7 linked regions of the Homo sapiens genome follow. The protein of the gene in region 7 interacts with the protein of the main gene of each other region in a biochemical or structural test. Each region holds a gene or a part of one and is shown on either strand. Other genes may lie near its edges. The genes, in order: PDZRN4, SHANK1, CARD11, GRID2IP, TJP3, GIPC2 and IGSF5.

Region 1 (3,939 bases), on a different chromosome or scaffold from region 7:
TAGAGAATTACAAGCTTTCCAGGAACAAGGCTCAACTGGCAGCAAGGAATCATCAATGATTAATTTATAAAACCCACCCAAGCATCTGGTGGCAGCTTCAGGATAATGGCAGTAAGTGATATGCAGCCAGGTGACAGGATCTCTGCATTCCTAAGGTTCAGAAGATGGTAAAGGAAGTGGAGTAAGAAGGGTTTGGAATGACGCCCTACTGCGTGTTTTCAGGACGGCTTGTCATGCTACACAATTTGAGGAGTCAAACTAGGAGGGGAGGCAATTTGGATCCAAAGGGTTCATTCAGGGTAAGTAGAAGGAAGCAGCCACTAAGATTTTATTTATATGTTATTTCACTGCTTTCTTTCATCATCCTTCCCTTTAATTTTCCCTTCCAGGTTCCCAAATGATCACATTCCCGTCCCCAGTAGTAAAACGCCCGTGGAAGTAGAAGATGGATGCTGTGGCAACTGAACCTGGAGTCAGACTCAGAATCCCAGCTTCCTCACTCGGGAGGAGGCCTTGCATGGCTGTTCATGGGCTCCCTAAGAAGGCAGTGTCCTGAGGCGGGCCCTTGACTTTTTCCCCATCTTTGCTGCTAGGTCAAGGATCGCGCCATTCTAACTCACCTGATTTCTGGATCACGGTTTGAGAAGCCTGGCCCTGTGGATTTCCTAGTGTTATTTTCCTTATAGTGATTTCCTAAGGTCACAGTTTCCTAACTTCTGATTTTGTAGTTTTGATGTGAAAGAACAAAAGTGCTTCGATTTCAAACATATTGGAGATAGACTCGACGCCGGGCGGGCCATGGGCATTCAGCGGAAAACCAGACAGACAAAAAGATTCTGCTCTCCCGAAGCTTACATTGTGGTGAATTTAAAAGTTGTTTCTCAACATTAGCGCTTTACCCATCAGCAGCCCTGCCCAGGGCGAGGCGCCTCGATGCTTGAAGTTCACTGTTCAGGCGAAGGAGAACACAGTGTTCCCAAGGACCATTGTAAGCTGGGCGGCCAAAATTTGAAAGAACATAAATCGCAGGGCAACGAAGGAGGCGGGGGTCTCTGGAGGTTACTTCTATTAGCGTCAATACGGGCGAAATCAGGGGACCTAGCAGGAGCCTGAAAACTTCAAGCCAAACAAACAGTGAGATCACACCTCCCACCCGCCACCTCCCTCCACTGCCGCCGCCGCGAGACGGCTGCCCCGGGGGTGGCCCGGGGAAGGCAGGGGGGCTCGGAGAAGACGGACTCTGCTTTCGCTCCCCCTTTCTTCCCCATCCCTAACATGGGCTTTGCCCTGGAGCGCTTCGCAGAAGCCGTGGACCCGGCTCTGGAGTGCAAACTGTGCGGCCAGGTGCTTGAAGAGCCCCTGTGCACGCCGTGCGGGCACGTCTTCTGCGCCAGCTGCCTGTTGCCCTGGGCGGTGCGGAGGCGCCGGTGCCCGCTGCAGTGCCAGCCCTTGGCGCCCGGCGAGCTGTACCGGGTGCTGCCGCTGCGCAGCCTCATCCAGAAGCTGCGAGTCCAGTGCGACTACCGCGCCCGCGGCTGCGGCCACTCGGTCAGGCTGCACGAGCTGGAGGCGCACGTCGAGCACTGCGACTTCGGCCCTGCCCGCCGGCTCCGCAGCCGCGGGGGCTGCGCTTCGGGGCTGGGCGGTGGTGAGGTGCCCGCGCGGGGGGGCTGCGGTCCGACACCCAGGGCTGGCCGGGGCGGGGGCGCGCGCGGGGGGCCGCCGGGCGGCCGCTGGGGCCGCGGGCGGGGACCCGGGCCTCGGGTCCTCGCCTGGAGGCGGCGCGAGAAGGCGCTGCTGGCGCAGCTCTGGGCGCTGCAGGGCGAGGTGCAGCTCACGGCGCGCAGGTACCAGGAGAAGTTCACCCAATACATGGCTCACGTCCGCAACTTCGTCGGCGACCTCGGTGGCGGCCACCGCAGGGTAAGCAAAGGGGGGTGGGCACCGCGGGCATGGTCGATTGGGGTGGGAAAAGGAGCGGTTCTTTCTGACGCTTCAGGATTCCTTTGGAATTGGGCATCCTTCCTCACTATGCAGCAGGAAACATCCACACCCTGATCATACTTTCCTGTCATTATCTTACGAATGGATTGGCGTCGAAGTTAAGGATTGTCCCTTTTCTGATTATATTACGATTGGAAAGAGTTAAACAGATTCGATTCTAACTTTCCCCCGGGAAAGTAGGAATTGTGAAAACTCATTTTCCATCCAGACTCTCGTTTTCCATCTTTCACCCTCCTGCCCACCGTCTCTGCCTATTTTTTGAGCACTTGTCCCGTGCCTGAAGCAAATCCGAGAAGGAAAGACAGAAAGCGAAGACTTTCCCGGCCCAGCCTTTCCTCTCCCGCGGCCACCAGCATCCCCGCGGCCCTGGCAGCCGCGCACGCACACCTGGGACTGGTGTCAGCGTTGATGACACTTGCGCTGCCACTGCCTGAATCAACTGCCTTCTATTAAGTTGGGGACTGTGAGGCACGTTGGGGCCAGGACAGCCTCAGGAGTTGAGAGATGGGGTTTCTTAGACTTGCAGAGTTCATTTCATCACTCTGACTTTCCCTAAATAAGCCTTCCTTGCCTCGGGATCTCATTATTGGTGGAGAGAGAGAGAGAGATTGAGATTGTGTGTGTGCGACCTGGGAAGTCCAGTCCGAGAACCTCCATCTGTGGTCAGACCGGCCCTGCGAGCCCCCAGGCAGCGGTTGTTTCCCTTCTTTGTCTAAGCTGCTGGCCCCGAACTGCGCTCCTGGTCCTCCCGCCGGCTTTCATACCGAATAAACAAGCCTCTTTGCAGCATCCCGTGTGAAGAGGCTTGTTTATAAAGCTGTTACTTCTCTCCTGGAGGACTTCTGCACAGTGTCTGACATTGTTGGTCGCTGCCATGGTGAGCAGGGATTTAGCAGAATTTGCGCACCATTCAAGGAGCTGTTTTCATTCTTCAGCACTCCCGGGGAGGAGCAACCCAGAAAGATTCCCATTTGGGACTGGCTGCTCCACACTGCCTCTAACTCAGGCACTGAGTTTAGAAGCGCCCGTCTTGAACGTAAAAGAGAAAATTGAAGTGAGAGGGACTAAAATGTTTCTACCTTGATGAATGGAAGCACGTTGTGTATTAAACGACCGGTTTCAAGGAGTATTTCTCTAGTTCATATATGCATATACATATACGCATATATACAGGTAAATTTACAAAACGGGAGGACCCGGGGAAAAGCACAGATAGAAGCTTTGTATTACCAGTCCAGGTTTCAAGGTCGTAGGAAACCAATGGTTGAAGGAAAGGAGGAACAGCTAGAATAATATTACAGAAAAGTCCATGCAACAAGTCAAGCTATGATTCTGAGAAGTGAGAAAAACTGCCCATGATTTGCAGACTAGCCAAAACCTTCTATGTGTTCCTCAGAAGTGTTTTTCTACTACCAGTAGGGGCTGCTCTGCGCATTGCCTGGGAAAAGCTCCTGGGAAAATATCTTGATGCTGATAGCAGTGATGATGATGCATATGTTCTGAATGTTATCATTCAGAAATAGTTTCCAAGTAAAGGTTAATAACATCTACAACCATGAATAAACCCACCTAGTCCAGCACTAATTCATCCTATGTGTAAGTTAGTCTTTACTAATAAACATTGTAGCTATAATTCATATTTGTTTTACTATTATTTGGCCAGCAGGAAAAAATACATACTACTTTACCTAGCACAAACCCTTATTTTTTTATTCTGCAGGAATTATGCAAAACCAAATAGGAATATTATTTAAAATTAGGACTACAGTAGCCTAACAGATCCTGCATTACAACAGCAACATGAATGTTATGACTATAATTTATAAATAGTTCCAGTGTTTCTTAAATTCCTTAAGACTTTACAAAATAAAAATTTTACACTATTGATAATTTATATTTTACTTTTCTGTAATGGAGGGAAAAATAAAGATACCT
Region 2 (3,500 bases), on a different chromosome or scaffold from region 7:
GGCCCCGCCGCCCACCCCGCACCACCACTCGCCCCACGCCCACCACGAGCCAGTGCTGCGTCTCTGGGGGGCCTCCCCGCCGGACCCTGCGCGCCGGGAGCTGGGGTACAGGGCCGGGCTGGGCAGCCAGGAGAAGTCCCTTCCCGCCAGCCCGCCCGCCGCCCGGCGTTCCCTGCTACACCGCCTGCCGCCCACCGCTCCCGGGGTGGGGCCCCTCCTGCTGCAGCTGGGGACGGAGCCCCCGGCCCCGCACCCCGGAGTAAGCAAGCCCTGGAGGTCCGCAGCCCCCGAAGAACCCGAGCGGCTGCCGCTGCACGTGCGGTTCCTTGAAAACTGCCAGCCCCGGGCCCCTGTGACGAGCGGAAGGGGTCCCCCCTCGGAGGACGGGCCGGGGGTCCCGCCGCCCAGCCCACGCCGGTCCGTGCCCCCCTCCCCGACCTCCCCGAGGGCCAGCGAAGAGAACGGGCTGCCCCTGCTGGTCCTGCCGCCTCCCGCCCCCTCGGTGGATGTGGAAGATGGCGAATTCCTTTTCGTGGAACCGCTGCCTCCGCCTCTGGAATTCTCCAACAGCTTCGAAAAGCCAGAGTCGCCCCTCACGCCTGGGCCTCCCCACCCGCTGCCCGACACACCTGCCCCTGCCACCCCGTTACCCCCTGTGCCACCCCCGGCTGTGGCCGCAGCCCCTCCCACCCTGGACTCCACCGCATCCAGCCTGACATCCTATGACAGCGAGGTGGCCACCCTGACCCAGGGGGCCTCCGCCGCTCCTGGGGACCCCCATCCACCAGGCCCGCCTGCCCCAGCAGCACCGGCTCCCGCTGCCCCACAGCCTGGCCCGGACCCTCCGCCTGGCACGGATTCTGGCATCGAGGAGGTGGACAGTCGGAGCAGCAGTGACCACCCACTGGAGACCATCAGCAGCGCCTCCACGCTGAGCAGCCTATCTGCCGAAGGTGGTGGCAGCGCAGGGGGTGGGGGCGGGGCTGGGGCCGGTGTGGCCAGTGGGCCGGAGCTTCTGGACACCTATGTGGCCTACCTGGACGGCCAGGCCTTTGGGGGCAGCAGTACTCCCGGCCCGCCATACCCTCCTCAGCTCATGACTCCCTCTAAGCTCCGGGGCCGGGCGCTAGGAGCCAGCGGAGGCCTGCGGCCTGGCCCCAGCGGGGGACTCCGAGACCCTGTTACCCCCACCAGCCCCACCGTCTCGGTGACAGGGGCTGGAACCGATGGGCTGCTGGCCCTGCGTGCTTGTTCAGGACCCCCCACGGCAGGCGTGGCGGGGGGTCCGGTGGCTGTAGAGCCAGAAGTCCCACCGGTGCCCTTGCCGACGGCCTCCTCTCTGCCCCGGAAGCTGCTGCCCTGGGAGGAGGGCCCGGGCCCACCGCCACCACCTCTGCCCGGGCCCTTGGCCCAGCCTCAGGCCTCAGCCTTGGCCACAGTAAAAGCCAGCATCATCAGTGAACTCAGCTCCAAGCTTCAGCAGTTTGGGGGCTCCTCGGCAGCTGGCGGCGCTCTGCCCTGGGCCCGAGGAGGCAGTGGGGGAGGCGGAGACAGCCACCACGGGGGAGCCAGCTATGTCCCCGAGAGGACCTCCTCCCTGCAGCGGCAGAGGTAAGCGGGGGCTGGTGGCCAACAAGGGAGGCCAGAGGTGTTGATGGCATGGCTGTGTCCCTTTAGGGTCTCAGGGTGGCAGAAAGGAAACAGAAACCAGGTTGGCAGGAGTTTGCTGTCACAGAAGCATGCTTTCACAAATATTTTCTTTTTCTTTTTTTTTTTTTCTTTTCTTTTCTTGAGAGGGAGTTTCACTCTTGTTGCCCAGGCTGGAGTGCAATGGCGTGATCTCGGCTCACCACAACCTCTGCCTCCCGGGTTCAAGCGATTCTCCTGCCTCAGCCTCCCATGCCACCACACCCAGCTAATTTTGTATTTTTAGTAGAGATGGGGTTTCTCCATGTTGGTCAGGCTGGTCTCGAACTCCCAACCTCAGGTGATCCATCCGCCTTGGCCTCCCAAAGTGCTGGGATTACAGGCATGAGCCAACATGCCTGGCTTTTTTTTTTTTTTTAGAAACAGGGTCTCACTCTGTCACCCGGCTGGAGTGCAGTGGTGTAATCATAGCTCACTTGCAGCCTCAAACTCCTGGGCTCAAGCAATCCTCTGGGACTATAGGTGCACGCCACTATGCCTGGCCAATTTTTCTTTTCTTCTTCTTTTTTTTTTTTTTTTTTTTTTTTTTGAGACAGAGTCTCACTCTATTGCCCAGGCTGGAGTGCAGTGGTACAATCTCAGCTCACTGCAACTTCTGCCTCCCAGGTTCAAACGATTCTCCAGCCTCAGCCTCCTGAGTAGCTGCGATTACAGGTGCCCGCCACCATGCCCGGCAAATTTTTGTATTTTTAGTAGAGATGAGGGGTTTTGCCACGTGGGCCAGGCTGGTCTTGAACTCCTGACCTAAGGTGATTCATCCCACCTCGGTCTCCCAAAGTGCTGAGATTCCACACATGAGCCAGCATGCCTGGCCCTGGCCATTTTTTCTTTAACTTTTTGTAGAGACAAGCTACGTTGACCAGGCTAGTTTCAAACTCCTGGGCTTAAGTGATCCTCCTGCCTTGACCTCCCAAAGTGTGATTACAGGTGTAAGCCACTGGGTCCAGCCTTTAAATTTCCATTTATTTCAGTAGCTTCTGTTGTCTCTGCCCATCACCATCACAACCTACATCCCATGATGAACAAAAAGTTATTAACAGGCTGGGCGTGGTGGTTCACGCCTGTAATCCCAGCACTTTGGGAGGCTGAGGCGGGTGGATCATGAGGTCAGAAGATCGAGACCATCCTGGCTAACACGGTGAAACCCCATCTCTACTAAAAAAAATACAAAAAATTAGCCGGTCATGGTGGTGGGCACCTGTAGTCCTAGCTCCTCAGTAGGCTGAGGCAGGAGAATAACTTGAACCCGGGAGGCCGAGGTTGCAGTGAGCCAAGATTGCACCACTGTGCTCCAGCCTGGGTGACAGAGTGAGACTCCGTCTCAAAAAAAAAAAGTTATTAACAAAGGAGACTGGAGTGAGACCTGCTTATGTTTGTTTCCTTGGTGAGCTGCCACTTCTTTCTGACAGTCCCTGAAATCTGTGAGTCCCTTGAAGCCAGTGTGGTTCAAGACAGGATGCAGTTATAGGTGTGGTTCTAGAGCCCACCTTCTCAGCTTCCAGTCCCAACCCTGCACTTTCTACCTGGGTGATCTTAGGCAAATGAATCCACCTCTCTGTAGAAGTGGAATGGCCTAGTGCCAGCCCAAAGAGTTTTTGAGAGGATTTAGTGTGTGCCATTGTTGTAACATGGGATGGGGGAAGAGGGGGCCTCGAACAAGAGCCCAGCAACTTCTACGTGGGGAAATACGGGATGATGCAGATGCTTCCCAGAGCAGCCAGTCAGCTGCATCGTCGCAGAATTCGAGCCCATTCAAGACCTTCTAGTCCTAGAGAAAGTAGAGTTACATTTCT
Region 3 (3,500 bases), on a different chromosome or scaffold from region 7:
CAAGGAGACCCTGGGCGAGGGGGGTCATTCCCACCTCCAGACACGAGTGCTAGACTGCGTTCAGTTTGTGAAATTCACTGAGCTGCATGCTTAGAATGCTGTGTTTATGTTCTATTCCAATGCAAAGTTTGATGTTTTATTTATTTAGAGACTGGGGCTCGCTCTGTTGCCCAGCCTGGAGTGCAGGGCATGATCCCGGCTTACTGCAGCCGCGACTTCTAGGCTGAAGCAACTCTCCCGCCTCTGCCTCCCGAGTAGCTGGGACTACAGTTACTCACCACCATGCCCAGCTAATGATTTTCTAATTTTTTTAGAGATAGGGTCTTGTTATATTGCCCAGGCTGGTCTCGAACTCCTAGCGTCAAGCAATCCTCCCACCTCCCAAAGTGCTGGGATTGCTGGCATGAGCCACCATGCCAACATTTGGTGGAATTTTTTTTTAAGTGATGCCTTCAGCAAAGCAGAAATTGCCCTTTCTCAAAATGATGAGCTCATGGTTGAGAACCTTGCAGATACTCCTGGGACCTGCCAGCCTCGCCGCCTCACCCTTCATGTGTTCCCTACCCTCTTACTTGAAGGCTGGCTAGGGTAGCAGGTGTTTTGGGGTGTGTGTGTGTGTGCGTGTGTGTGTATGTGTGTGTGTGTGTGTTTGAGACAGTGTCTCACTCTGTCACCCAGGCTGGAATGCAGTGGCACCATCTCGGCTCACCGCAACCTCCACCTCCCGGGTTCAAGTGATTCTCCTGCCTCAGCCTCCCGAGTAGCTGGGATTACAGGCGTGGGCCACCGCACCCAGCTAATTTTTATACTTTTAGTAGAGACAGGGTTTTGCCGTGTTGGCCAGGCTGGTCTCGAACTCCTGACCCCAAGTGATCGGCCCGCCTGGGCCTCCCAAAGTGCTGGGATTACAGGCGTGAGCCACCACGCCCGGCTGGTAGCAGGTGTTTCATTCAAACTCATTCACGCCACCTGGTTCACCCCGTCCGGGGCCTCATCTCTGCCCATGAACATCACTGTGGTCAGCAGAGTCCTGGAGTGTCCAGACTCATGTGGGGGTCTCATCTCCTGGATCAGCGGCAGGTGGCTTTCAGGGCTCCCGCCCCGCTATAGACCCCAACCCTGCATCCAGGCCCCGCTGCAGGCACCTTCACAGGAGCGGGAGGTGGGTGGGCTGCTGCTGACCAAAGCCGCTGTGCCCGCAGAACAAGCACTGCCTGCTGGAGGCTGGGATCGGCTGCACAAGAGACTTGATCAAGTCCAACATCTACCCCATCGTGCTCTTCATCCGGGTGTGTGAGAAGAACATCAAGAGGTTCAGGTAGGGCTCCCAGACCCCTAAGGGCTGTCCCCTCCTGTCCCTAGCACCCCACCAAGCCTCCATGGATCGCAGGAGGCCTGTGTGCCCCCACCTCATGCACCCCTTTTGTAAACCCTCACCAAGTACGGGACTGACCTTGCAGAGCTGATGCCAAGGACAGCGGCCGAGATGGTGACTCACATATGGGGCGCATCCCAGGGGACAAGAGCTGGGAGGGACGGGGCGGAGTGCCCATCACCCAGGGTGGTCCGGGAAGGCCTGGGGTATCCATCAGCGAGACCCATGGCAGTGAGGGGGGCCTAGGAGATGAGAAAGAAGACGCAATCTGGGCAGCAGGGGAACAGCTGGTGCTCAGACCCTGAGACAGATGTTTGGGCGGAATGGTGAGGGACGGAGGGGTGAGGGGCGGAGTGGTGAGGGACAGAGGGGTGAGAGGCTGAGGAGTGAGGGGCGGAGGGTGAGGGACGGAGAGTGAGAGGCTGAGGGGTGAGGGGCGCAGGGGTGAGAGGCAGAGGGTGAGGGGTGGAGGGGTGAGGGGCGCAGGGGTGAGGGGCGGAGGGGTGAGAGGCTGGGGAGTGAGGGGCAGAGGGTGAGGGACAGAGGGGTGAGAGGCTGAGGAGTGAGGGGCGGAGGGTGAGGGACGGAGAGTGAGAGGCTGAGGGGTGAGGGGCAGCGGGTCCAGGCCATGCAGGGCCACGGGAGGCTGCGACATCTTGTTCTGGGTGCATCTGGAGGCCACTGAAGGTGGCATGGTCCACTTTAGGGTATAAACGCACCTCTCACCTCTGGACACGGGCAGGGTGGCGGTGTGGGCCGGGCTTCTGTCTGAGAGGCGATGAGAGGCAGTCTGACTCCGAATCCGTGTTCAGGGTCGAGCCTGCAGGATTCGGGAAAGGGTTCACTCTGGGGTTCCAGAGAACCAGAGGCTGGGCGCGGTGGCTCACGCCTATAATCCCCACACTTTGGGAGGCCAAGGTGGGCACATCAGCTGAAGTTGGTAGTTTGAGACCAGCTTGGCCAACATGGTGAAACCCCATCTCTACTAAAAATACAAAAAAAATTAGCTGGGCGTGGTGGCGGGCACCTGTAGTCCCAGCTACTCAGGAGGCAGAAGCAGGAGAATCGCTTGAACGTGGGAGGGGCAGGTTGCAGTGAGCTGAGATCGAGCCACTGCACTCCAGCCTGGGCGACAGAGTGAGACTCCATCTCAGAAAAAAAAAAACAAAAAAAAAAAAACGAAAGGACGGCGCTGAGGTTTGGGGCCTGGGTGATGAGGACAGACTGGCCCTTAAGTGGCTTCATCTCGGATCCCCGCCCCTCCTCGCACGCACCTGCAAAATAAATGTCCTGCCACCATTTTGCAGAGGGAATCACAGACTGAGAGTTTAGGCCCATTCATTCCTTTTCACCAGATACTCACTGAGCCATTGTGAAGGGTTAGGCTCTGGGGAACGCAGCAGTGAGCAAAAGAGACGGGCATCCCCCTCGATACCTCACACCCGTTAGGCTGGCCAGGACCAAAAGGACAGAAACTGACAAGTGTTGACGAGGAGGGTAGACGTCGGAACCCGGTGCACAGCTGCTGGAAATGCAAAAGAGAGCGGCCACTGTGGAGGACAGCATGGCGATGCCCCCAAAAATTAAAAATAGAATACTATATAATCCAGCAACCCCACCTGCGGGCATATCCCCAAGAGAATTGAGAGCAGGGTCTGTAAGAGACATATACACGCCCGTGTTCACAGCAGCGTTACTCCCAATAGCCAAAACGTAGACGTCACCTAAGGGTCGGTCTGTGGGGAGTGAATACACACAATAGGGCCCATCCATACAGGCTAGGAAGGTGGCAAGAGCTGAAAACCTTGCAAACTGTTAACAAAAAAAGAGTTGAAACAAAGAAACAATAATACATTTAATGCATGAGAAATACTAGCATGGTACATACCCCCTTCCCTGATCTGTCCTGCCTGGGAATGTGTTTATGGTGCAGTGTGTATCACAACAAAAATACTGTATGGAGTATTTTTTTTTTTTTGAGACGGAGTCTCACTCTGTCACCCAGGCTGAAGTGCAGTGGCACGATCTCGGCTCACTGCAGCCTCCACCTCCCAGGTTCAAGAGATTCTCCTACCTCAGCCTCCCGAGTAGCTGGGATTACAGGTGCCCACCACCATGCCTGGCT
Region 4 (3,500 bases), on a different chromosome or scaffold from region 7:
GCGCCCGCCATCACGCCCACCTGGCTAATTTTTTTTCTATTTTTAGTAGAGACGGGGTTTCACCGTGTCAGTTGGGATGGTCTCGATCTCCTGACCTTGTGATCCGCCTGCCTCGGCCTCCCAAAGTGCTGGGATTACAGGCATGAGCCACCGCGCCCGGCTGTCTTTCATTTTTTAGAGACAGGGTCTGGTTATGTTGCCCAGGCTGGTCTCCAACTCCTGGCCTCAAGTGATCCTCCCGCCTTGTCCTCCCAAAGCTCTGGGATTATAGGCATGAGCTGCTGTGCCCAGCTTGTTATTTATTTATTTATAGCCTGAGAGAGACTTGAACATTTATATAAGCTGCAGGGAATGGAGAAGTAGATATACTGAAAACCATGCAGGCCGGGCACAGTGGCTCACACCTGTAAACCCAGCACATTGGGAGGCTGAGGCGGGTGGATCACCTGAGGTCAGGAGCTCGAGACTGCCTGGCCAACATGGAGAAACCCTGTCTCTACTAAAAACACAAAACATTAGCTGGTTGTGGTGGCGGGTGCCTGTAATCCCAGCTACTCAGGAGGGTGAGGCAGGAGCGTCGCTTGAACCCGGGAGGCAGAGGTTGCAATGAGCCGAGATCATGCCATTGCACTCCAGCCTGGGCAATAAGAGTGACACTCCATCTCAAAAAAAACAGAAAGAAAAAAGAAAAAGAAAACCATGCATTTACCAGTCATTGATCATGGGCCTATGATGTGCAGGACAGGGGAAACAGCCATGAACAACACAGGCAAGGAGCCTGACTTCACACACCTAACATTACTGCAGGGAAAGAGACAGTAAGCAAGTGGATTAATCAATACACAAGCTATTAAAGATCATGACAGGCCAGGCACGATGGCTCAGACGTGTAATTCCAACACTTTGGGAGGCCGAGGTGGGAGGATCACCTGAGGTCAGGAGTTTGAGACCAGCCTGGCCAACATGGTGAAACCCCATCTCTACAAAAATTACCAAAATGAGCCGGGCGTGGTGGCATTTGCCTATAATCCCAGCTACTTGGGAGGCTGAGTCAGGAGAACTGCTTGAACTCAGGAGGTGGAGGTTGCAGTGAGCCAAGATCCCACCACTGCACAGAGCGACAGAGTGAGCGACAGAGTGAGACTTTCTCTCAAATAATAATAATAATAATAAAATTAAATTAAATTAGCCAAGCACAGTGGCGTGCACCTGTGATCCTGGCTACTCGGAAGGCAGAGGTGGGAGGATCGCTTGAACACAGGAGTTCAAGGCCACAGGGAGCTATGATTGCACCACTGCACTCCAGCCTGGGCAACAGAGCAAGACCCTGACTCCAGAAAAAAAAAGATGATGATGAATAAAGTGGAGGCATAAATAGGGTGAGGTGAGAGTGACGCAACCCACTTTGACAGGGTGGCCAGGAAAGGCTGCCTGATGAGATGATCTTTGAGCTGAAAGCTGAATGACAAGTAGGTGGCAGGAAGAAAGGGGTGGAGACTGGGAATGGTGAGGTGTCTGTGGCCTGGTGATTTGGCCTTGACTACAAAGGGGGCTTTTTTTTTTTTTGAGACAGAGCCTCGCTCTGTCACCAGGCTGGAGTGCAGTGGCACGATCTTGGCTCACTGCAACCTCCGCCTCCCAGGCTCAAGCAATTCTCCTGCCTCAGCCTCCCGAGTAACTGGGATTACAGGCGTTTGCCATCAGATGCTCAGCTAATTTTTGTATTTGTAGTAGAGATGGGGTTTCACCATGTTGGCCAGGCTGGTCTCGAACTCCTAACTTCAGATGATCCACCCACCTTCGCCTCCCAAAGTGCTGGGATGACAGCCGTGAGCCACCGCACCCGGCCGGAAGTGGGCCTCTTCAACCTCTGAGAGCAGAGGATGGAAGGGAAGGATGCGGAGTCTGTTGAGAAGTTTGGAGGTGGATGAGGGTGAGAGAGGCGGGGCCTGACAGCCCCAGTTCAGGCTGAAGTTGCACCCACAAGTCCTCGAGAGAGGGAGACGTGAACGACTCATGGACTCACTCAGCCGCCCAGCCTTGCTTCAGGGTCAGCTCCAGCTGTCAGTGCCCAGAGACAACCAGACCCTCAGCCAACAAGGGAAGGGTCTCATGGAGTATGTGCTTTCAGTGGCTAAACTGTATGACATGTGGGCAATTCGATGGTTTTTAATATATTCACAGGATTGTAACACCCATCACTACCATCCATTTTCAAACAATTTCATCACTCTAACAAGAAATTCTGCACTCCTTAGCCATCACTCCCTATTTCATGGTTTTATTTTCTTATTTATTTATTGAAATGGGGTCTTGATCTGTTGCCCAGACTGTATAGTGCAGTGGCACAATCTTGGCTCACTGCAGCCTCAACTTCCTGAGCTCAAGTGATCCTCTCACTTCAGCCTCACAAGTAGCTGAGACTACAGGCATGCACCACCACATCTGGCTAATTTAAAAAAAATTTGTTTGTAGAAATGGGGTCATGCTATGTTGCCCAGGATGGTCTTGAATTCCTGGTCTCAAACAATCCTCCTGCCTCGATCTCCCTAAGCACTGGGATTACAGGTGTGAACCATTGCCCCCAGCCCTGCCAGGATCTTGCCTCCCACCTACTTTGGGATTTTCTTTTTTCTTTTTTTTTTTTTTTTTTTTGAGATGGAGTTTTTGCTCTTGTTGCCTAGGCTGGAGTACAATGGCAAGATCTCGACTCACTGCAACCTCCGACTCCTGGGTTCAAGCGATTCTCCTGCCTCAGCCTCCCGAGTAGCTGGGATGAATAAAGGCACCCACCACCACGTCTGGCTAATTTTTGTATTTTTAGTAGAGACGGGGTTTCACCATGTTGGCCAGGCTGGTCTCAAACACCTGACCTCAGATGATCCGCCCCCCTTGGCCTCCCAAAGTGCTGGGATTACAGGTGTGAGCCACCGCGCCTGGCTGAGATTTTCCTCTTTGTTTTTGGCCTAGATAGCCAAGAAACTACAAATATCTCCCACATGGATGTACTGCAATTATTTAGCCCCCACTGTCAGATATTTATATTGCTGCCAACGTCTTAGTGTTAGAAATAATACACAGGTGAACCACCTCACTCATACATCATCGTGCATGTGTCTTGTCAGGATGTGTGTAAGATAAATTCCTACATGTGAGATCATTGGGTAGAAGGATGGGCTTTGGACACACTTAACAACCTGCCTTCCAGAAACGTGACCATTTGCATGCTCATTTCCAACATGACCATTTGCATGCTCATTTCCAATGTGCCCATTTGCACACTCGTTTCCAACGTGTGCATTTGCACGCTCGTTTCCACCATGTCTATTTGCATGCTCCTTTCCAACGTGATCATTTGCACACGTTTCCAACGTGTCCATTTGCACGCTCATTTCCAATGGCCACACACTCCTGTGTGCAGATGTGCCTTGATTAGTATCAGCTGGTTTGTGGACAAAGACAAAAGTTTGGAGAGAGAACTGAGGGAGTCAAAATTCAGG
Region 5 (2,465 bases), on a different chromosome or scaffold from region 7:
TGGGGTCCACTCTGACCTCAGACTCTTCATCTTTCTATCTTTCTCTCTCTGTTTACCCTGCTGCAATCCCCCTCACCCCAACGTCCGCCGGCCTGGCCCAGGACAAGCATGCGCTCCTGGATGTGACCCCCTCCGCCATCGAGCGCCTCAACTATGTGCAGTACTACCCCATTGTGGTCTTCTTCATCCCCGAGAGCCGGCCGGCCCTCAAGGCACTGCGCCAGTGGCTGGCGCCTGCCTCCCGCCGCAGCACCCGTCGCCTCTACGCACAAGCCCAGAAGCTGCGAAAACACAGCAGCCACCTCTTCACAGGTTGGGGGGTGGGTGTCCCAGGGTAGGCGGGTGGGCCCCAGCCTGAGTCTCCTGCACACACTGACGTCCCCTCCCTGCAGCCACCATCCCTCTGAATGGCACGAGTGACACCTGGTACCAGGAGCTCAAGGCCATCATTCGAGAGCAGCAGACGCGGCCCATCTGGACGGCGGAAGATCAGGTACTGCCGCGGTGTGGGTGGGTCGGGCAGGGAGGCCCCACAGACGCTGTGCAGGCCCAGCTGGGGTTTGGGGCCTCTGTCGGGAGTTAGGGCTTGGTCAGGGATCAGGACTGTGGCCAGAGTCAAGATGGGACCTGAGACAAGGGTGTTGGACTGGAACTTGGGTGAGATGAGATTGGAGGAGCTGTTTTTTGTTGTTTGATTTGAGATGGAGTCTCATGTCACCCAGGCTGGAGTACAGTGGTGTGATCTCAGCTTGCTGCAACCTCCGCCTCCCGGGTTCAAGTGATTCTCCTGCCTCAGCCTCCCGAGTAGCTGGGACTACAGGCGAGCGCTACCAGGCCCAGCTAATTTTTGTATTTTTAGCAGAGACGAGGTTTCACCATGTTGGCCAGGCTGGGCTCAAACTCCTGACCTCAGGCGATCCACCTGCCTCAGCTTCCCAAAGTGCTGGGATTACAGGCCTGAGCCACCGCGCCCAGCCTGGAGGAGCTGTTTTGAGAATGGAGTCAGTGGGGCACGGGAGCTCACGCCCATGGTCCCAGCTACTCAGGAGGCTGAGGCAGGAGAATCACTTGAACCCGGGAGGCAGAGGTTGCAGTGAGCAGAGATTGCGCCACAGCACTCCAGCCTGGCAACAGAGACTCCTTCTCATAAAAAAGAGAGAGAGAATGGAGTCTTCTCTTGGGGCTGGAGTCAAGGTTTGGGGCTCAGCTTGGATTTGGGGGCTGAGCCTCTCAGGTGAAGGGTCAATGGATACAACCCATCCTGGAGTCAACAGAGAAGCCTCCACTGAGGCTCCAGGCTCCAGGCTCCTCGCCTTGATTTGGGACCAGAGTTTGAAGGTGGGGGGATGTCGTGGGTGGCAGCTGGGGTCCTGGCCAGGGCCAGCCGCAGCATCCACACCCACCCCACAGCTGGATGGCTCCTTGGAGGACAACCTAGACCTCCCTCACCACGGCCTGGCCGACAGCTCCGCTGACCTCAGCTGCGACAGCCGCGTTAACAGCGACTACGAGACGGACGGCGAGGGCGGCGCGTACACGGATGGCGAGGGCTACACAGACGGCGAGGGGGGGCCCTACACGGATGTGGATGATGAGCCCCCGGCTCCAGCCCTGGCCCGGTCCTCGGAGCCCGTGCAGGCAGATGAGTCCCAGAGCCCGAGGGATCGTGGGAGAATCTCGGCTCATCAGGGGGCCCAGGTGCGTCGGACATGGGGGGCAGGCCTGGGAAGGGTCTCCGGAGGGGATGCCAGCACAGAGCAGACACACACTGGGAGCCTGTTTTCTACCAGGACGTCAACAAACACGGCTTCCCTGGTCAGACTGGTTTCTGGGACTCAGACCTGGGGTAGCTGAGACCCACGTGGCACTGAGTAACTTGCAGCATTTTTTTTTTTTTTTTTTTTTTGAGACGCAGTCTTGCTCTGTCGCCTAGGCTGGAGTGCAATGGCGCAATCTTGGCTCACTGCAACCTCCACCTCCCAGGTTCAAGCGATTCTCCTGCCTCAGCCTCCTGAGTAGTTGGGATTACAGGCACCTGCCACCATGCCCGGCTAATTTTTGTATTTTTAGTAGAGACGGGGTTTCACCATTGGTCAGGCTGGTCTTGAACTCCTGACCTTGTAATCCACCCGCCTTGGCCTCCCAAAGTGCTGGGATTACAGGCATGAGCCACTGCACCCAGGCTTTTTTTTTTTTTTTTTTGAGATGGAGTTTCGCTTTTGTTGCCCAGGCTGGAGTGCGATGGCGTGATCTCGGCTCACCACAACCTCCGCCTCCCAGGTTCAAACGATTCTCCTGTCTCAGCCTCCTGAGTAGCTAGGATTACAGGCGTGCACCACCATGCCTGGCTGATTTTGTATTTTTAGTACAGACAGGGTTTCTCCATGTTGGTCAGGCTGGTCTGGAACTCCAGCCTCGGCCTCCCAAAGTGCTGGGATTACAGGTGTGAGCCACTGCACCCGGCC
Region 6 (2,989 bases), on a different chromosome or scaffold from region 7:
AAGCAAAATTCTGAACTGGAGTTCTACTTCAGCAGTACTTCACCTTAACATTCTGGCTACTCTTCTTTTACATCCTGGCTATGAGACCAGAGTTCTGGACTTCACTTTCCCCAGTGCATGCTAACTGTGCCTGTGCAAAAAGTATGTAAGTGTAATTACACACCCTCCTCTTGCACCACCCATTCACTAGCATTTATTATGCATGAGACACTGAATTAGTTACTACGGGCATAAAAGACTGAGTAAGCTACTCAAGATCTGTTGGGAGTTTATTCTTTTAGTAGGAGAGAAAAAAATACACAGAAAAATAAATGTCAGTGCAGAGCAATGTTGAATTTGCAGTCTAAGACCTTTTTATTGAAAGTGTTTCCTGAGGACCAGCATCACCTGGGAGTTGAAAATGCAGAATCTCAGGGCTGCAGAACTACTGAACCAAAATCTCCATTTTGCCAAGATCCTAGGTGATTTGTTTGTGCATTTAAGCATGAAAAACACTGGCAGAAGGGTTTAGAGAATGGGGATATCTCTTCCAGCTGTGGACAAAGGATTTCATGGAGGAGAGAGCCTTGAAGGAGAGAAGGATTTTGATGGTGGTGCTGGTGGCTAGGAGGAGGTTATCCTGGGCAAAGGCAGAAAGCAGCGAAGATAGCATTTTGAGTGGTCAGATTTATGAGGGTACAGCATTAATGTAGTGTAGTGTAGTGAGAACCAAGGGTTCTGTAGATTAGACTGCCACTAGGGTTTAGTTTTAAAGATAAACATTGGTTACACAAGGAAAAAAAAATTGTGTGTGTGTGTGTGTGTGTGTGTGTGTGTGTGTGTGTATGTATGTATTATGGATTCATGGCTTCCTGTTCTATTCACTGGAGTTATAATATATTACCATCATTACTTATTTGGATATTTAAATTATCCCTGATTTGGTCAGTGTGAACTCTTGCACTCTGACATCTATATCCTTTTCACATGTTCCCATCATTTTGTGACACTTTCTTACTTTCTGGTACAAGATAGTCTTGGTTCATATTGCACTTTGCCTGCTCTAGCCCTGGAATCTGCCATTTTTCTGAGGAAGTCTTAGTCTTTCTAATGGAGAATGGTATTTAAGAACCAAGATTTCGGTGCTTTGTGTACTCATTGTAGTTGGGATGTCATGCTTCCAGGACTGAGGAATGTGTATACACATGCATGTATGCATTTATGTCTGTATTTTTATAACACCTCAATTGGAGATATATATATATTTCCAGTGATATCTACAATTCTAATTCCATAGGGTTCATTCTTATTTTCTCCCTTTCCCTATTTATCCTTTTCTGGCAGTGACAAACTTGATTCCTGTTGTTCTGTATGTATGTGTCTGTGTATGTGTGTATGTATGTGTGTGTGTGTGTGTGTATGTATGTGTGTGTGTATGTATGTGATCCATCTCCATATGTGTAACTAATCTCTTATCACCGTGGCTGCTGCCCTCCCTCCCCATTCCCATGCCATCCTCACCACATCTGTACTCTCCCACCCCATGCCAGGCTGCCTGGCCATATAGAAGCCCTCCTTACCTTACTAGAGGTTTGATCCCTCTACTAGTTCACTGCACCCCCACCCTACTTCTGCTCTGATCCTGGTGCTCTTCTGTAGGCCACATCTCTCCCTTTTCTTCCTAGCCTGCCTTGTGTTAGGACTGAACTGATGGGAAGAGGCATAGCTTTTATCTCTCTAGACCTTGTGGCTCGTTCAGAGAAGTCATACAAACTTGGATTAGTTCATCCTTAACCTGGAAGGAAAGGAGATGCTGGAGCTTTTCCCTGGGGCTTTGGCGTTTCCCTTTCACATGGAGGTTTTTCACCCAAGTCCCACATCACATATACACCATCTCTTTCTGGTTGCTGGTGCTTCTAGGGTGCTGAGTGGAAATCCACTGAGCCTCTTGGGCTCCCAGACAGCTGGGGCAAGTCCTAAGTACTCCTGAAGATGCTGGTTCCAAGACATAGAATATGGAACCCAGGCAACTTAGTAGAAAAACTGAACAAGGCCGCCACTTTCATGTTCTATCCCAAACTGGAGAGGGGCTCAGAAAAGGTACCTTGATTCCACAGGTAGACAGATGTCTTCCTCTGCTTCTCCCCAGCTTGACTGCTCCAGTGCAAGCTGTCATCCTTTGTCTTTTTGTCTTTGGGCAGGGAGGACTGGACTCCATCTCAGTTGGCAGTGGGGGACTGGTGGAGGAGGGAGGGAGAGTAGTGACTATTAGGAGGTTGGGGAAGGGGTGTTCTTTAAGTTTCCTGCTAGGGTTAGTCACAGCCACAGGGTTTCTTTCAGGGGATCTTGTTCTACCCATGGGAATGCCAGAGGTTCCCAACTGATGGGCTCCAAGGTTGGGTAGGGGGCAAGGGTGGCAGCTGCAAACCTGGGTTCAGTGGACACATTGTTGAAAAGTATCTTTGCCACCTTGATGTGTGTGTGTGAGAGAGGGTATCTTACTGTTTTAATTTGCATTTAATTTTGCATTTAATTTGAAATATATTTATGCATGTTACTTTTAGCAAGTAATTTTCCTGTTGCCATTTTTCTCAGTCCTTTGATGCTATTTCATTTATTGTTAATTTTTTAATATTATTTTTGATAGCCACCACAATGTTTGAAGCTGGAAAGGACAAAGTAAATCCAGATGAATTTGCTGTGGCACTTGACGAAACTCTTGGAGACTTTGCGTTCCCAGACGAATTTGTCTTTGATGTTTGGGGAGTCATTGGTGATGCCAAACGAAGAGGATTATGATGTGTACACTCCATCTCTGAAGAAACAACCCATCGTTCTTTTTTTTCTCTTTTTTAAAAAGTCCTATAAGATCTGTTTTTGGACACCTTTACTAACTCTGGTTTAATTTCATGTGTATGGAATATATTCTTTGAAATATAATTTTGGTAATTTTGATTTCTGGGCACTTTTTAACATTGCTGATGTAGTATGCTTAAGAGAAATGACCTAA
Region 7 (3,500 bases):
CGAGGGTACAAATGCAGTTTTGTTACATGGAGATATTGTGCAGTGGGGAAGTCTGGGCTTTTGGAAAGGACTGACTCATGACGTCTGCCATTCATTGGACAAGCTTGTAAATGCCTTTTCCACCCTCTAATGAGAAGCCTTAGGGAAAGTAGAATTCTCCCAAAGTCTCTGGAGGTTCTGAGAAGGCCGACCCTGAATGCAAGATGCTCAGAGCTGGAGTCTTCCGAGTGCAGGAGAAATGCCAGCACCTTTTTATTGAGCCGTGGCGGTGTCCAGGTTGCTCCTTAGTCCCTTGCGTGGTTTTTGTTACAGCTATTTCTTTCTTCTTTTTTTCTTTACTTTTAAAAAATTTCAATAGTTTTTGGGGTACTGGTGGTTTTTGGTTACATGAATAAGTTCTTAAATGGTGATTTCTGAGACGTTAGTGCACCTGTCACCCGAGCAGTGTACACTGTGCCTAATATGTAGTCTTTTATCCCTCACCCCGTTCCTCCCTGAGTCCCCAAAGTCCATTGTGTCATTCTTGTGCCTTTGCATCCTCATAGCTTAGCTCCCACTTATAAGTGAGAACATATGATGTTTGGTTTTCCATTCCTGAGTTACTTCACTTAGAATAATGGCCTCCAGCTCCATCCAAGGTGCTGCAAAATATGTTATTTTATTCCTTTTTTTTTATGACTAAGTAGTAGTCCATGGTGTATATATACCGCATTTTCTTTATCTACTCATTGGCTGCTGGGCATTTAGGTTGGTTTCATATTGTTGCAATTGCAATTGTGCTGCTATAAACATGCATGTGCAAGCGTCTTTTTCATGTAACGACTTCTTTTCCTTTGGGTAGATACCCAGTAATGGGATTGCTGGATCAGATGGTAGTTTTACTTTTAGTTCTTTAAGGAACCTCCTACTGTTTTTCATAGTGGTTGTATAATTTACATTCCCAGCAGTGTAAAAGTATTCCCTTTCACCACATCCACACCAACATTTATGGCTTTGTCTTTTATGATAATTCTTGCAGGAGTAAGGCAGCATCTCATTGTGGTTTTAACTTGCACTTCCCTGATTAGTGATGTTGAGTATTTTTCATATGTTTGTTGGCTGTTTGTATATCTTCTTTTGAGAATTGTCTATTCATGTTCTTTGCCCACTTTTTGATAGACTTATTCTTTTTTTTTTCTTGCTGATTTGTTTTAGTTCCTTGTAGATTCTGGATACTAGTCCTTTGTTGGAGGCATAGTTTGCAAATATTTCCCCCCACTCTGTGGGTTGTGTGTTTACTCTGCTGATTACTTCTTTTGCTGTGCAGAAGCTTTTTAGTTTAACTAGGTCCTATTTATTTAGTTTTTGCATTTGCTTTTGAGGTCTTAGTCATTAATTCTTTGCCTAAGCTAATGTCCAGGCATTTTTTCTGATGCCATTTTCTAGAATTCTTAGAGTTTTGGATCATAGATTTAAGTCTTTCATCTATCTTGAGTTAGTTTTTGTATAAGGTGAGAGATGGGGATCCAGTTTCATTCTTCTATGTGTGGCTTGCCAATTACCCCAGGATCATTTATTTAATAGGGTGTCCTCTCCTCAATTTATTTTTTTTGTATGCTCGGTTGAAGATCAGTTGGCTGTAAGTATTTGGCTTTATTTCTGAGTTCTCTATTTTGTTCCATTAGTCTATGTGCCTATTTTTATACCAGTACCAAGCTGTTTTGGTAAGTATAGCCTTGTAGTATAATTTGAAGTCAGGTAATGTGAAGCCTCCAGATTTATACTCTACAGTTGTTGGGAAGAATGTTCTGTAAATATCTGTAAGTTCCATTTGTTCTAGGGTATAGTTTATGTCCATTGTTTCTTTGTTGACTTTCTGCCTTGATGATCTGTCTAGTGTTATCACTGGGGTATTGAAGTCCCCCACTATTATTGTGTTGCTGTCTGTCTAATATTGTAGGTCTAGTAGTAATTGTTTTTAAAATCTGGGTGCTCCATTGTTAGGTGCATATAAATTTAGGATTGTAATATCTTCTTGTTGGATTAATTCTTTTATCACTATATAATGCCCTTCTTTGTCTTTTTTTTTTTAACTGTTGTTGCTTTAAAGTCTGTTTTGTCTGAAATAAGAATAGCTACTTTTGCTTGCTTTTGGTTTCCATTTGTGTGAAATATCTTTCTCCAACCTTTCACCTTGAGTTTATGTGAGTGCTTAGGTGTTAGCTGAATCTCTTGAAGACAGTAGATATTTGGTTGGTGTTTTTTTGTTTTTTTTTAGTCCATTCTGCCATTTTTAATCTTTTAAGTGGAACATTTAGGCCATTTACATTAGGTCAATATTAAGATGTGAGGTACTGTTGTATTCATCATGTTAGTTGTTACCTAGATACTTCTATTTTTAATTGTGTTATTGTTTTATAGACCCTGTGAGATTTATGCTTTAAGCAGGTTCTATTTGGGTGCATATCAAACTTCTGTTTCAAGATTTAGAACTCCTTTTAGCATTTCTTGTAGTGCTGGTTTGGTAGTGGCAAATGCCTTTAGCATTTTTTGTCTGAAAAAGACTTTATCTCTCATTTATGAAGCTTAGTTTTGCTGGGTATAAGATTCTTGACTGACAATCATTTTGTTTAAAGAGGCTAAAGATAGGACTTCAATCCCTTCTGGCTTATAAGGCTTCTGCTGAGGAATCTGTATGGCTATTTCCCACCAACCTTGAGCAGGCACTTGCCCCCTGTTGTTTGTTTTTGAGCTTCTTGCCGTTGCCCCAAACATGACATTTTCTGCCACTTTTGAAGATTCCATTATCAAGCCATTTCCAATAATCCAAAAATAAGGGGCTGAGTGCGATCTCAAAAGCACCAATTTTCTTTCTGAGAGGACTAGCTTGGTGAGTCCTGGCTGATCTTCTGAGTGTGTTTGCCTCTCGTCAGGACAGGGAGGAATTGGTGGGTGGCTAAATCCTGTCTATTTAATACAGTTTAATAAGACTAAAGACTTTAAGAATAAAAGATTTTTCAACTAAGTGTAGGTAATTCAAGTCTGCTATAATGAAATGAAAGACAAGTTAAATCTCAAGTCCTGTTCAGACTACCCCATAGGGATATTCATGAACAATACCCGGCATATGTCTTTAATTAAAGCAGCTTGTCTGATTTCAGTTAAACTTGAAATCAGCTTTATGACAGTGTTCCAACTGCATACACCCTTCAAATGCTATCCCCTCTCAAATCCATATCTGTAGCAGCCTCACTGCTTGGTTCCTGGAGCTCTGAGGGTGTTTTTGCACTGCCTGCCCTGTGATTCTGCTAGACTCCTCTTTCATACAGAGATGAAATGTGGATGACATGTGAGGGTGTTGGCAGAATGGAGTGTTGAGTAAGTTAAGCAATCTATTCTTAGTCTGTTGCCTGACTCTACCTGCTTGTCGGGGACTAGAAGTCTTTCCTAACAGACCTTAATCTATTGCTGTGTCGTTTTCTGTAACACTGGGTTCACACTTGGCAGTGACTGCTTTTGGT

The links.
Region 1: the proteins of IGSF5 (region 7) and PDZRN4 interact in a test that uses a peptide from one of them, tested with the Homo sapiens proteins (one large-scale study listed by IntAct).
Region 2: the proteins of IGSF5 (region 7) and SHANK1 interact in a test that uses a peptide from one of them, tested with the Homo sapiens proteins (one large-scale study listed by IntAct).
Region 3: the proteins of IGSF5 (region 7) and CARD11 interact in a test that uses a peptide from one of them, tested with the Homo sapiens proteins (one large-scale study listed by IntAct).
Region 4: the proteins of IGSF5 (region 7) and GRID2IP interact in a test that uses a peptide from one of them, tested with the Homo sapiens proteins (one large-scale study listed by IntAct).
Region 5: the proteins of IGSF5 (region 7) and TJP3 interact in a test that uses a peptide from one of them, tested with the Homo sapiens proteins (one large-scale study listed by IntAct).
Region 6: the proteins of IGSF5 (region 7) and GIPC2 interact in a test that uses a peptide from one of them, tested with the Homo sapiens proteins (one large-scale study listed by IntAct).

The regions. Positions count from the first base shown.
Region 1 is NC_000012.12:41,187,181-41,191,119, forward strand, and holds the start of PDZRN4 (PDZ domain-containing RING finger protein 4), read left to right. Parts: upstream 1-1,139; 5' UTR 1,140-1,275; coding exon 1,276-1,923; intron 1,924-3,939.
Region 2 is NC_000019.10:50,664,303-50,667,802, reverse strand, and holds part of SHANK1 (SH3 and multiple ankyrin repeat domains protein 1), read left to right. Parts: coding exon 1-1,611; intron 1,612-3,500. UniProt on the Homo sapiens protein: Seems to be an adapter protein in the postsynaptic density (PSD) of excitatory synapses that interconnects receptors of the postsynaptic membrane including NMDA-type and metabotropic glutamate receptors via complexes with GKAP/PSD-95 and Homer, respectively, and the actin-based cytoskeleton.
Region 3 is NC_000007.14:2,907,868-2,911,367, reverse strand, and holds part of CARD11 (caspase recruitment domain-containing protein 11), read left to right. Parts: intron 1-1,202; coding exon 1,203-1,318; intron 1,319-3,500. UniProt on the Homo sapiens protein: Adapter protein that plays a key role in adaptive immune response by transducing the activation of NF-kappa-B downstream of T-cell receptor (TCR) and B-cell receptor (BCR) engagement.
Region 4 is NC_000007.14:6,541,462-6,544,961, reverse strand, and holds part of GRID2IP (delphilin), read left to right. Parts: intron 1-3,500.
Region 5 is NC_000019.10:3,746,384-3,748,848, forward strand, and holds part of TJP3 (tight junction protein ZO-3), read left to right. Parts: intron 1-101; coding exon 102-312; intron 313-392; coding exon 393-493; intron 494-1,410; coding exon 1,411-1,698; intron 1,699-2,465. UniProt on the Homo sapiens protein: TJP1, TJP2, and TJP3 are closely related scaffolding proteins that link tight junction (TJ) transmembrane proteins such as claudins, junctional adhesion molecules, and occludin to the actin cytoskeleton.
Region 6 is NC_000001.11:78,132,966-78,135,954, forward strand, and holds part of GIPC2 (PDZ domain-containing protein GIPC2), read left to right. Parts: intron 1-2,083; exon of another isoform or gene 2,084-2,216; intron 2,217-2,626; coding exon 2,627-2,778; 3' UTR 2,779-2,989.
Region 7 is NC_000021.9:39,751,683-39,755,182, forward strand, and holds part of IGSF5 (immunoglobulin superfamily member 5), read left to right. Parts: intron 1-3,500. UniProt on the Homo sapiens protein: Provides, together with MAGI1, an adhesion machinery at tight junctions, which may regulate the permeability of kidney glomerulus and small intestinal epithelial cells. Mediates calcium-independent homophilic cell adhesion.